Homo sapiens: one gene and its partners. The protein of the gene in region 1 interacts with the protein of each later gene in a pairwise test. Each region holds a gene or a part of one and is shown in the gene's direction. Other genes may lie near its edges.

Region 1 (3,751 bases):
GCACAGCAGATAAAAATAACCAAATTCAGTAATTTCACCTCATTTTCCTCTACTAGTCTCACCCTTTTCCTCTCCTTGTCTCTCCATCCTCCTCTGTCCCCAGTTTTCTTTCTTTGCACATCTACCTGGCTCTTCTGTCCTCCCCTTCCATTTCTTGGCCTCCCTGTCACCTCCTGTCCCTGGTGGGCTCTTTCCTCTTGCCCCTTCAGCCTCCTCCTTCATACTGCATCCCTGTCCCTTTGTTCTCCTGGTCAGTGCCAGGGGTGGGTGATCCAAGTTGAATTCCAAGCCGGATTCCTTTTTCTGGTTCCTCCAAGGATGGCATGGGAAAGCATGAAGCCAATGAGAAGTGACTGGTGGGGCCTCTCTGCACCTATTAAGAGAGACAGATGACAGCACTTCTGTTGCTGCCTGGGACCTGAGCTTGTGGGCCCCAAATCCCTTTTTGCCAACACCCACGTCCCTTTGTCTCTGGGAAGCAGCAAGGCAGATGCCCCACATTCCACCACACCACCAAATAAAGAGGCAGCTTTTGTTACTTCTGTGGGCCTCCGGAAGGTTTAGGGGAGCTGCCCTAGAAAACGGCAGGGACTCTGGGGAGAACTGAGATCAAGCCAAAAGAAAAGTATAAATGGAGAAAAAAAAGGAAGGCCAGGAAGCAGGCCTGGACAGGAGCAAGCAGAGGTGTAAGTGGGGAGGAGAGGAGACGGGGACAGAAAATGTAAGCAAAGGTAGATACAGGAAGGGTGGTCAGTGAAGGGGCTTGCAGAGGAGGAAAGTGGCAGGACACGTGTCACATAGGGAAGAGTGTGGGCATTGATCTGGGATGACCTAGATTCCTGGGCCCAGCTATACCACTTAGAAATTGTGTGATCTTGGGCAAGTCACTTATCTTTCTGAGATGTCATTTCTTATCTGTAAAATGGGACTAATTTATTTATCACCTATTTATGAGGTGCCTTTATACTTGGAGGACCAGCTGTGAATGAGACAGACCACATCTCTGCCCTAATGAAGAGTACATTCTAACGGAGAGAGGCAGAAAATAAACAACACAAGTTCAGATGGCAATAAATGCTATGAACACGATATAATAATATGATACAGAGAGGAGGTGGGATGGGAGTTTATTTTATTTTATTTTGAGACAGAGTCTTACTCTGTTGCCCAGGCTGGAGTGCAATGGCACAATCTCAGCTCACTTCAACCTCTGCCTCCCAGGTTCAAGCGATTCTAGTGCCTCAGCCTCCCGAGTAGCTGAGATTACAGGCATGCGCCACCACACCTGGCTAATTATTGTATTTTTAGTAGAGATGGAGTTTCACCATGTTGGCCAGGCTGGTCTTGAAGGGAGTTTATTTTAGATATGGCAGTTAGGAAAGTCATCTTTGAGAAGATGACATTTGAGCTAAGACCTGAATAATGAAAAGGATCCAGCCATCCAAGATCTGAGGGAGGAGCATACCAGGCAGAAGCAACAGCAACTGCAAAGGCCCAGAGGTGAGAATGAGCTTCATTTGTTTGAGCGACAGAACAGAGGCCACTGTGTTTGCAGCAAAGTGCACGTGGAGGACCCTGGCAAGAGAACGTTCTGAGGCAGGCAGAGGCCAGATTACAGTGGATCTTGTAGGCCAGCCAAGAGGTTTGGCTTTCATGTTAAGTGTGGTAGAAAGCCAGGAGAGGGTCTTAGCCAGGAATGGGATGATACGATCTGCTTTACATTTTTAAAAGAGAACTTGGCCACTAAGTGGAAACACTTAAGATGGAGGGAAGTGACTCAGAACAGTGAGTCCTGTCAGCAAGTTACTGCAATAGTCCAGTCAAGAGATGATGGTCGCTTGAGTTAGGGCTGTAGAAATGGAGATGATTCAGAATATATATATATATATATTCTTTTTTTTTTTTTTTTTGAGACGGAGTCTCGCTCTGTCGCCCAGGCTGGAGTGCAGTGGCGGGATCTCGGCTCACTGCAAGCTCCGCCTCCCGGGTTCACGCCATTCTCCTGCCTCAGCCTCCCAAGTAGCTGGGACTACAGGCGCCCGCCACTACGCCCGGCTAATTTTTTGTATTTTTAGTAGAGACGGGGTTTCACCGTTTTAGCCGGGATGGTCTCGATCTCCTGACCTCGTGATCCGCCCGCCTCGGCCTCCCAAAGTGCTGGGATTACAGGCGTGAGCCACCGCGCCCGGCCCAGAATATATTTTGAAGGTGAAGCCCTCGGGATTTGCTAATGAATTCGATCAGGGGATAACAGAGACATGAAAGATGACTTTGCCTTGAGAAAATTGATGGAAGGTGGTGATGTTTATTGAATTGGGAAAGACTTGGCAAGGGGTAAGTTTTGGGGCTAGGGGAGCCATTTAAAACATGTTTTCCTCTGTTGAGTTTGAAGTAACTGTGGACATCCAAGTGAATATATTGAGGCAGTTGGATATATAAAGGCAGAACCAGGGAGAAAACAGGGCCGGAGATGTAAATTTGGAGTCATTAGCATATAATTGGCATTAGAATCCATGGGAAATAATGGTGCAGTCACATGGAGAGACACCAGAAGAGGAGAAAGGGTCCAGTCCCAGAGACACTCCAGTATTTAGAGGTCCAGTATAGAAGGAGAAATGAACAAAAGAGTAAAGTGAGAGGAACTCCTGGAGCATGTCATGCCCTGTAAGCCAGAGCAGAAAGTGCTTCAAGGAGACAGTGATCCACTGTGTCAGGTTGCTAAGTCAAGTGAGATGGTCTTGGATTTGGCAAGAGAGAGGACCCTGAGACATCTCAGTGCATGGAGGCACCGATTGGATTGGGTTTGGAGAGGAAATGGGAGATGAAGGTGAGTACCGATAACTCCAGTAGTCATTTTGAAGAGAAGCAGAGAAGTAAGGGAAATAGGGTCAAAAGATTATTTCTTTTCTTTTTTCAAAGGTAGGAAATGCTAGATCATGTATAATGAAAGAAAAGATCCAGTACAAAAAAAGGCCTTTGCCTGGAGAAGGAACGTTCCTCCATTCAAACGGGCGAAAAGTCAGAATTGAAGCAGAGATGCAGGCAGGAACTACCTGGGAAAATAGGGTTCTATTTTTTTTTTTTTTGAGACGGAGTCTCGCTGTGTCGCCCAGGCTGGAGTGCAGTGGCGTGATCTCGGCTCACTGCAAGCTCCGCCTCCCGGGTTCACGCCATTCTCCTGCCTCAGCCTCCCGAGTAGCTGAGACTACAGGCGCCCGCCACCACACCCGGCTAATTTTTTGTATTTTTAGTAGAGGCGGGGTTTCACTGTGTTAGCCAGGATGGTCTCGATCTCCTGACCTCATGATCCGCCCGCCTCTGCCTCCCAAAGTGCTGGGATTAAAGGCGTGAGCCACCGCGCCCGGCCGAAAATAGGGTTCCAGAGCGATTCTCTCCTCAGTAGAGTTTTTTGTTTGTTTTGAGACGAAGTCTTGCTCTGTCACCCAGGCTGGAGTGCAGTGGCGAGATCTTGGCCCACTGCAACCTCCTCCTCCTGGGTTGAAGCAATTCTTCTGCCTCAGCTTCGCGAGTAGCTGGGACTACAAATGCCAGCCACCACACCCGGCTAATTTTTGTATATTTAGTAGAGATGGGGTTTCGCCATTTTGGCCAGGCTGGTCTCCAACCCCTGATCTCAAGTGATCCACCAGCCTCAGCCTCCCAAAGTGCTGGGATTAAAGGTGTGAGCCACCGTGTTTGGCCGACAATACCATTTTTTTAGGGCCAGAAGCACCTAAGAGAGAGTTGAACC
Region 2 (3,751 bases), on another chromosome or scaffold:
TCAGGCTGGTCTCAAACTCCTGACCTCAGGTGATCTGCCTGCCTCGGCCTCCCAAAGTGCTGGGATTACAGGTGTGAGCCACAGCACCCAACCTTTTTTTCCCCGCCGCACCCCAAGATGGTGTCTCACTCTGTTGCCCCAGGCTGGAGTGCAGTGGTGTGATCCTGGCTCACTGTAACCTCTGGGTTCAAGCAATTCTTCTGCCTCAGCCTTCCAAGTAGCTGGGATTACAAGTGCCCACCACCATGCCCAGCTAATTTTTATATTTTTAGTAGAGACAGTGTTTCACCATGTTGACCAGGCTGATCTTAAACTCTTGACCTCAAATGATCCACCCACCTTGGCCTCCCAAATTGTTCGTTTTACTTTTTTTTTTTTTTTTTTTTGAGCTGGAGTCTTACTCTGTTGCCTAGGCTGGAGTGAAAGTGGCGCAACCTCTGCCTCCCAGGTCAAAGCAATCCTGCCTCAGGCCCCCTAGTAGCTGGCATTACAGGCACATGCCACCACGCCCAACTAATTTTTATATTTTTAGTAGAGACGGGGTTTCACCATGTTGGCCAGGCTGGTCTTGAACTCCTGACCTCAGGTAATCCACCTGCCTTGGCCTCCCAAAGTGCTGGGATTACAGGCGTGAGCCACCACACCCGGCCCCCAGTTCTTTTTTTTTTTTTTTGAGACGGAGTCCTTGCCCAGGCTGGAGTGCAGTGGCGCGATCTCAGCTCACTGCAAGCTCCGCCTCCTGGGTTCACGCCATTCTCCTGCCTCAGCCTCCCGAGTAGCTGGGACTACAGGCGCCCGCCACCACGCCCGGCTCATTTTTTGTATTTTTAGTGGAGACGGGGTTTCACCGTGTTAGCCAGGATAGTCTTGATCTCCTGACCTCGTGATCCGCCCTCCTCGGCCTCCCAAAGTGCTGGGATTATAGGCGTGAGCCACCGCGCCCGGCCTCCAGTTCATTTTAAAACCATGAAACCACCCACACTGGAGAGCCACCTTCTTAAATGTAAGCAATATGGGAACATCTTCAATGACATCTGCAACCATTGTCGAGATTCTTCGTAGGAAGAATTAAAGGAATGGGGAAGAAGGACTTGGGCCCCAGCAGGCCTTTTGTGGCATCCAGTCAGAAGTTAGGAAACACCCTCTAGGGCAGTGCCTGCCCTCAGCTCTCACACATGACTGGAGAGAAGTGAGAAGACTCCCAGAATCTGCCTTTTAAGTTTCCATCAGTGTCCTCGGGTCAGACTGTGGGAATGCTGTACTTCTAAGACAAAGGTTCGCATCTTACAGTTTTTCCCCAAGTGGGATCTGCCTATGCACATCCTAATTCACAGACATTGTCAGCATTGCATTATTCCAGGGCTGTTTTGAGGTCATCTCCAGCTCCATTTCCCATCTCAAACCTACACTTTGGACACTTGTTTAAACATTCACATCTGAATTTCTCTGTGGCAACCGCAGGTGGCTCTGAGGTGAGAGACTGAAGAAGCAGAGCCTGTATCATGGGACACACACCCCTTGACCACACAGCATCCACTCTCCTGCGGTTACCAGCCCTGCACCAACCACCACAGTCAGAATAATCTCAAAACTGCTAGTGGAGTCACAGACACACTCTGCCATGTCTTAGCTGTAGGACACTCAGAATTCTTACCTCCCCTAACTTGCTTTCCCTGTTTTCTGGCACATTCTACCCTGAGATATTCAGCGGCATATGCACTGATGATGCTCCGGCCTTCTCACGTCAGTGCATGTCACATGCATCCTGCTCCAGGACTGGTTTCCTAGCCTCCCGCTAAGACTAGCACTTAGCTCTTCTTGGAAAAGGACCCACCCTGCAGCGCTCCAGCTCTGTTGTGTATGGGAGGTGCTGGTGTCAGGGTTCACAAGCCATGGAACTACCTTGCTTCACATCACAAGGCAAGGTGAACTCAACTCCCAATAAACTGCTTGCTGGAGCCTCCGAATTCTCCGTTTTCTGAATTGCATAGGCACGATAGGGGTCGGGTCTGTCCTTTGTTGGAGTCAGTCCCCCCTTTTCTTAGCAAGTCAGTGTGTTTTAGAAGGGAGGTGGCAGCATTGAGGGAAACCAGGTCACCATCCACCCTCGTAACAACAGTCTCCCTGGGTGGGTCCCAGAAGTGATCTTTGTGTCGCTCGGGTCGGAACTCTTTAGGCCTCTGGCCTCCACCCTCCCCCAACAGCAGGGATGGGTCAGGTGGCAGCATCCAAAACCACGGTGAAGATACTAGGGTCCAGAGGCCGACTGGAGCAAGGTTTGCTGGCAGATGAGGCCTCAGTGGAAGTGACGGCTACTGTGGAGATGCAGTGGAGGACCTGGTGGCTGAGCCAGGAGATGCACACCTTCGCTTCTCTCACCAGGAACATTCGCTTCTCTCACCAGGAACATTTATGGTAGTATGAGGGGTTGGAACATTATTACTCAACCCATTTCAGGTCCTTTCACATTCTTGAGCTGCCATGTTGTGCTTTTGTAGAGAGATGATTATTGTACTGTGGGAGGTCAGGAAGTTCGAGATTCCTTCACTGTCAGAATGGGCTCAAGGAGCCATCTTTTGTGATAGGTATTGGGGAACTAAGGGGTATCTCTGCTACAGGAATGGGAGTGAGAACATTCACTTTTTGAAGGACAAGTATATGTGGGTCTATGATGATGTTTTTGTAAAACCCTTTTGTGTATGTGTCTGTGTGAGTCCTAATATTCAGTAAGTATTTTCCTCTGTGTAACTCCCTCTAATAGGTGTAGTCAACAAAGCTGTGCTAATATCTCTGTCCCCTTGATCCTGGCATTCTGGAAGACACGAAAGCAAGCAAGGATATATAAGGCACTGTGGTGGTTATTCCCGAGGAGCCAGAGAAACCTGGAGAAGAGATCAGAACACCTGGGGTCCTTCTATTTGGGAGAATCTTTTAGTATCTGGGCTGTTACACCTGTGGGTTTGTGAATTTGTGTCTGTCCACCTGTATGTACAGTGATAACGTGTGTGATTTTTGTATATTTGTCTAGAGGGCTGTGTGTATATATATTTATATATATTTTTAAATATGGAATGCTTTTAGGTTTTTTTTTTTTTTTTTTTTTTTGAGATGGATTCTCACTGTTGCCAGGCTGGAGTGCAGTGGCACAATCTTGGCTCACTGCAACCTCCACTTCTCAGGTTCAAGCAATTCTCCTGCCTCAGCCTCCTGAGTAGCTGGGACTATAGGCGCGTGCCACCACAACCAGCTAAATTTTTTTGTATTTTTAGTAGAGATGGGGTTTCACCATGTTGACCAGGATGGTCTCAATCTCCTGACCTTGTGATCCACCCACCTCGGTCTCCCCAAAGTGCTGGGATTACAGGCGTGAGCCACTCTGCCTGGCTGGTTATTTTGTTTGTTTGTTGTTTTTTTGAGACACAGTCTCGCTCTGTCACCAAGCTGGACTGCAGTGGCATGATCTCGGCTCACTGCAATCTCTGCCTCCCAGGTTCAAGCAATTCTCCTGTTTCAGCCTCCTGAGTAGCTGGGATTACAGGCGCGTGCCACCATACCGAGCTAGTTTTTTTATTTTTAGTAGAGACGGGGTTTCACCATGTTGGCCAGGATGGTCTCGCCCTCCTGACCTTGTGATCTGCCTGCCTCGGCCTCTCAAAGTGCTGGGATTAGAGGCTTGAGCCACCAGGCCCGGCTGGAATGCTTGCATTTTCTTGCCTGATTTCCCTGGGAGCACCCCCCTTAACACTGAATG
Region 3 (3,751 bases), on another chromosome or scaffold:
CTACCCCACCCTTCACCTGCAATGCCATTCAAAGTCCAGTTTATGCATTGTCTTTAGTTGTCACATTCCACAGTTTCTTTAGTCTAGAAAGATTCCACAGTCTTTGTCTTTTATAAACATGGTGGTTTTTTTTTTAATAGGAAAGTTATTTTGGAGAAAGATGTTCATTTGGAGTTTGATATATTTCATGTTTAGTTTCAGATTATGTATTGTTGGTAAGGATATTGCACAAGTGATGAGGTTTCCTCTTTATTGCAACATAACAGGGTTCACATGATGTGGTTTGTCCCTTCACTGGTGATCTCAACTGTGTTCACTTGGCCAAGATGATGCCTTTCAGATTTGTCCGCTGTAAAGTTACCTTTTTTAAAAAAACTCAAGTTTCTTATTGGAAGGTACATTATTAGTGGGCATTCTACTAAAGATGAACTTCTAGTTCTCTTCATTTATTCATTTGTTTGTTCAAGTATAAATCTCCCAACAATATGGACTCAGAATTCAGTCTTATGAAGGTAAATGACATGTGGATTAGCAATTTTTTTTCAACTCTATTGAGGTATATTTTACATAAAGCATTCACTCATTTCAGGAGTACAGTGATCTTTAGGAACTTTGTAAAGTGGAGTAACCATCATCATAATTCAGTTTAGTTATTTTTCACCCTCAGTTGGACTCTGTGCCCATTTACAATTAAACCTCATTCTCACCCCAAATCTGGAGCAACCACTAACCTACTTTTCCTCTATGTATACATTTGCCTATTCGGACATTTCATATAAATGGAATCATCTAATCCATGGATTTTGGTGACTGGCTTCTTTCTCTTATGATGTTTCCAAGGTTTGTGCATGTTGTAGCATGGGTTGGTACTTCATTCCTTTTAATTTCCAAATTAGATTCCATTATATGGATATGCCATGATTTTTCTATCCATTTACCCAGAGGAAGGCATTTTGGTTGTGCACAGTTTTGGGGTTAGTATGAATAATGCTGCTGTGATCATTCATAATACATGTGCTTGTTGCTACACAGCCTCCCCAGCCACCATTTCATGTCTCTCTTTTGCTGTCTCTGGCATTTTCCAGGCACAATTCCACCTTCCTTTGTGCTCCATTACTCAAGACACTGAAGACTCCAAAAAGTAGTAGGAAAAATGACCACATTCAAGGTGAGTAGAGCTCACCTCTCTTGCTATTAAAATTCCATCTTATTGCTCATATTGTCATATATTTTTCTCTGTCTTGGGAAGACTCAAGGAGGAAATGGGCATTTGGGACCTGTTGTGTGCCAGTTGCTTCCTTTGTCTCTTTTGTGTTGACTTTGCATTTGGTTTTTGGTTTGGGTTTTGTTTTGTTTTTTACTGTTACATTATGGAGTAGAAAAATTAGTAGGAATGAACAGTGCTCCCACTTCTTCACCTCCTTGCTCTCAAATTAGCCTGATTTTTCTTCTTGTGCTGTTCCTTGTACATTCATAACTGTATTTGTATTGATGATGGAGTTCCTTATGTCAAGAGTGCTCTATACACCAAGATAACATGTCCTTCTGGTTTTCTTCATACTTGTCCATCAGATAGTTAGTCCCCCTTTCTGTGGAGGCCCACATTGCGCATGTTGGCTCCATTTCTCTTAGATGCTCCAGGGACCCTCTGACCCACTTCACCCACCTCCTGAGTCCTCTGGCCCCAGGAATGAGCTATTATTTAAGGTGTCGCAATCAGCGGATCACACACCAAGCTCCTGTGTTTCCGTATTCTGTCCTTCTGTCTCAATCCATGCAGCCAGCTCACATCTGTGGAGGGGTGGCCTGTGTCCCGCTTATCATTCTGTCTTCTTTATAAATCATCAAGCTGCTGTCCAGCCTGCGCCCCCAGGCTGCCATCACAGCACTGGGCCAATTGCCCAGGATATAAGTGCTCCCCCTTTGCCAGTCCAGAGTTCTGTCAAATTGGACCCTGCTGGCTGCACCAATTCCATGGAACAGGTTCACTAGTTACAGACTTGGCGAGTCTACCATGAGAGAGCACACTCATGTATGACAAATTACATAAAGCAGATTTATTACATGTAGGTAGCAAGGGACAACAGAAGCCTATGATCCACTGTGAGCCAGTCCTCCAAGGCTTAAGAAAGCTGCCTAGAGTGGGTGGAGTCACGACTGCACTTGCCCCATTTGCACCATAGCTGAGGCACCCCAAGAGGCAGCCTGTCCCAGGCTATATGCCTCAGGGGTAACATGACTTACTGAGCAGTTCCTCTCTAACTCAAGATATTATCTTTTATGGATTGGACTAGAACCAAAGAAGGCATAAAAAAAAATAAAAAGATGTTATCTTCCCTGGGAAGGACACTGCATAACTAGCACATTTATGGTTATTCTTGAGACCTATAAACAAGAAAGTGGGGAGAATGGATCCAAGGCTACTTTGAAAATAGTTACCTAAAACCTGTTAGTTTGGCAAATACTAAAGAAAAGTGATAGCATCCAGGGTTTGGGTCTGAGAGAGGAGGACAATAAGCCTCATCAAACAAGGTTGAGACTGAATTGCTCATTGTTGCTGGGGCAACTGGGGCAATTGGCAAAATTCATTGAAACCTATATAGGTGTAGCCCAGGATGCACCATTTGAAATCCTAAGGGGTTACTTACAAGGAGACTCAGTAAGTGCACAAAGTAAAAATACAGGAGGTCTTTTTCATGATTGCACTTCTGGTGGAGCTCAGGAAAATCACTGTCAGGATACAGACAGAATGAGTGGGAAATCTATAAGTTGACCTCCACTTCTCCTCTCCGCCTGCTCAATGCTGCTCCTCCCCCAGTAGTCCATGGTCATAGGATTGAGGTTATGTATCCTTGATGTTATAGGAGGCAGTGACCTTCAAGGATGTGGCTGTGTTCTTCACTGAGGAGGAACTGGGGCTACTGGACCCTGCCCAGAGGAAGCTGTACCAAGACGTGATGCTTGAGAACTTCACGAACCTGCTGTCAGTGGGTGAGCACAGGCACCCTCTGTAATGGTACATCAGGCCTCAGGAGTGGCTTTGTATCCTAGAGTATTCAAGTTTGTGTATGCAGTGGGAACTTAAATTTCCAGTAAATTTTACCTTGATATTACCTAGAATGAATTGGTATTAAGCACATGACTTTGCATGTTCACAGGGCATCAACCATTCCACCCTTTCCACTTCCTAAGGGAAGAAAAGTTTTGGATGATGGAGACAGCAACCCAAAGAGAAGGAAATTCAGGTAAGAAGCAAGCAACTGTGTGTCCTTGTACATGACTTTCTTTCCCATTTGTTTTACTTCTGACCATGCCCACTTATATCACCCTGATCTAAATTGCCCAATCTCTTTCCTGGTTTATTACAACCCCTTTCTGGCTGGTGGTCCTGTTCCCTCCCTTCCACCCTGACATCTATTTTCCCCCGAGCAGCCAAAATGATCCTTGGGAAATGCAAGTCAGTTTTCCACTCCTTGGTCCAAAAGCCTTTATGGTTTATTAATGTTATTAAAGTTACAACCTCTTTATTGGCTTTTAGAGACCCTGAGGTTTGTTCTTCATCCCCTGCTGCCTCTTGACTACATCTGTCCTCTCGCCCTTGCATCATCTTTTCCAGCCACGTTGTCCTCCCTGCTGTTACTCTGTCCTGTCATGGACACTGTATTCCCTGTTGCTGGTAACAAATAACAGACTTCACAGATTAAACAACACTTTTGTTCTTTCTGACATGGGGAGGACGGTCTCCCACCCC

Evidence for each region.
Region 2: the proteins of CCDC136 (region 1) and ZNF490 interact in binary tests that used the Homo sapiens proteins (3 or more experiments, as listed by UniProt).
Region 3: the proteins of CCDC136 (region 1) and ZNF230 interact in binary tests that used the Homo sapiens proteins (3 or more experiments, as listed by UniProt).

What each region holds. Positions count from the first base shown.
Region 1 is NC_000007.14:128,794,850-128,798,600, forward strand, and holds part of CCDC136 (coiled-coil domain-containing protein 136), read left to right. Parts: intron 1-3,751. UniProt on the Homo sapiens protein: May play a role in acrosome formation in spermatogenesis and in fertilization.
Region 2 is NC_000019.10:12,576,168-12,579,918, reverse strand, and holds part of ZNF490 (zinc finger protein 490), read left to right. Parts: 3' UTR 1-3,751. UniProt on the Homo sapiens protein: May be involved in transcriptional regulation.
Region 3 is NC_000019.10:44,005,926-44,009,676, forward strand, and holds part of ZNF230 (zinc finger protein 230), read left to right. Parts: intron 1-1,085; 5' UTR 1,086-1,153; coding exon 1,154-1,168; intron 1,169-2,864; coding exon 2,865-2,991; intron 2,992-3,158; coding exon 3,159-3,245; intron 3,246-3,751. UniProt on the Homo sapiens protein: May be involved in transcriptional regulation.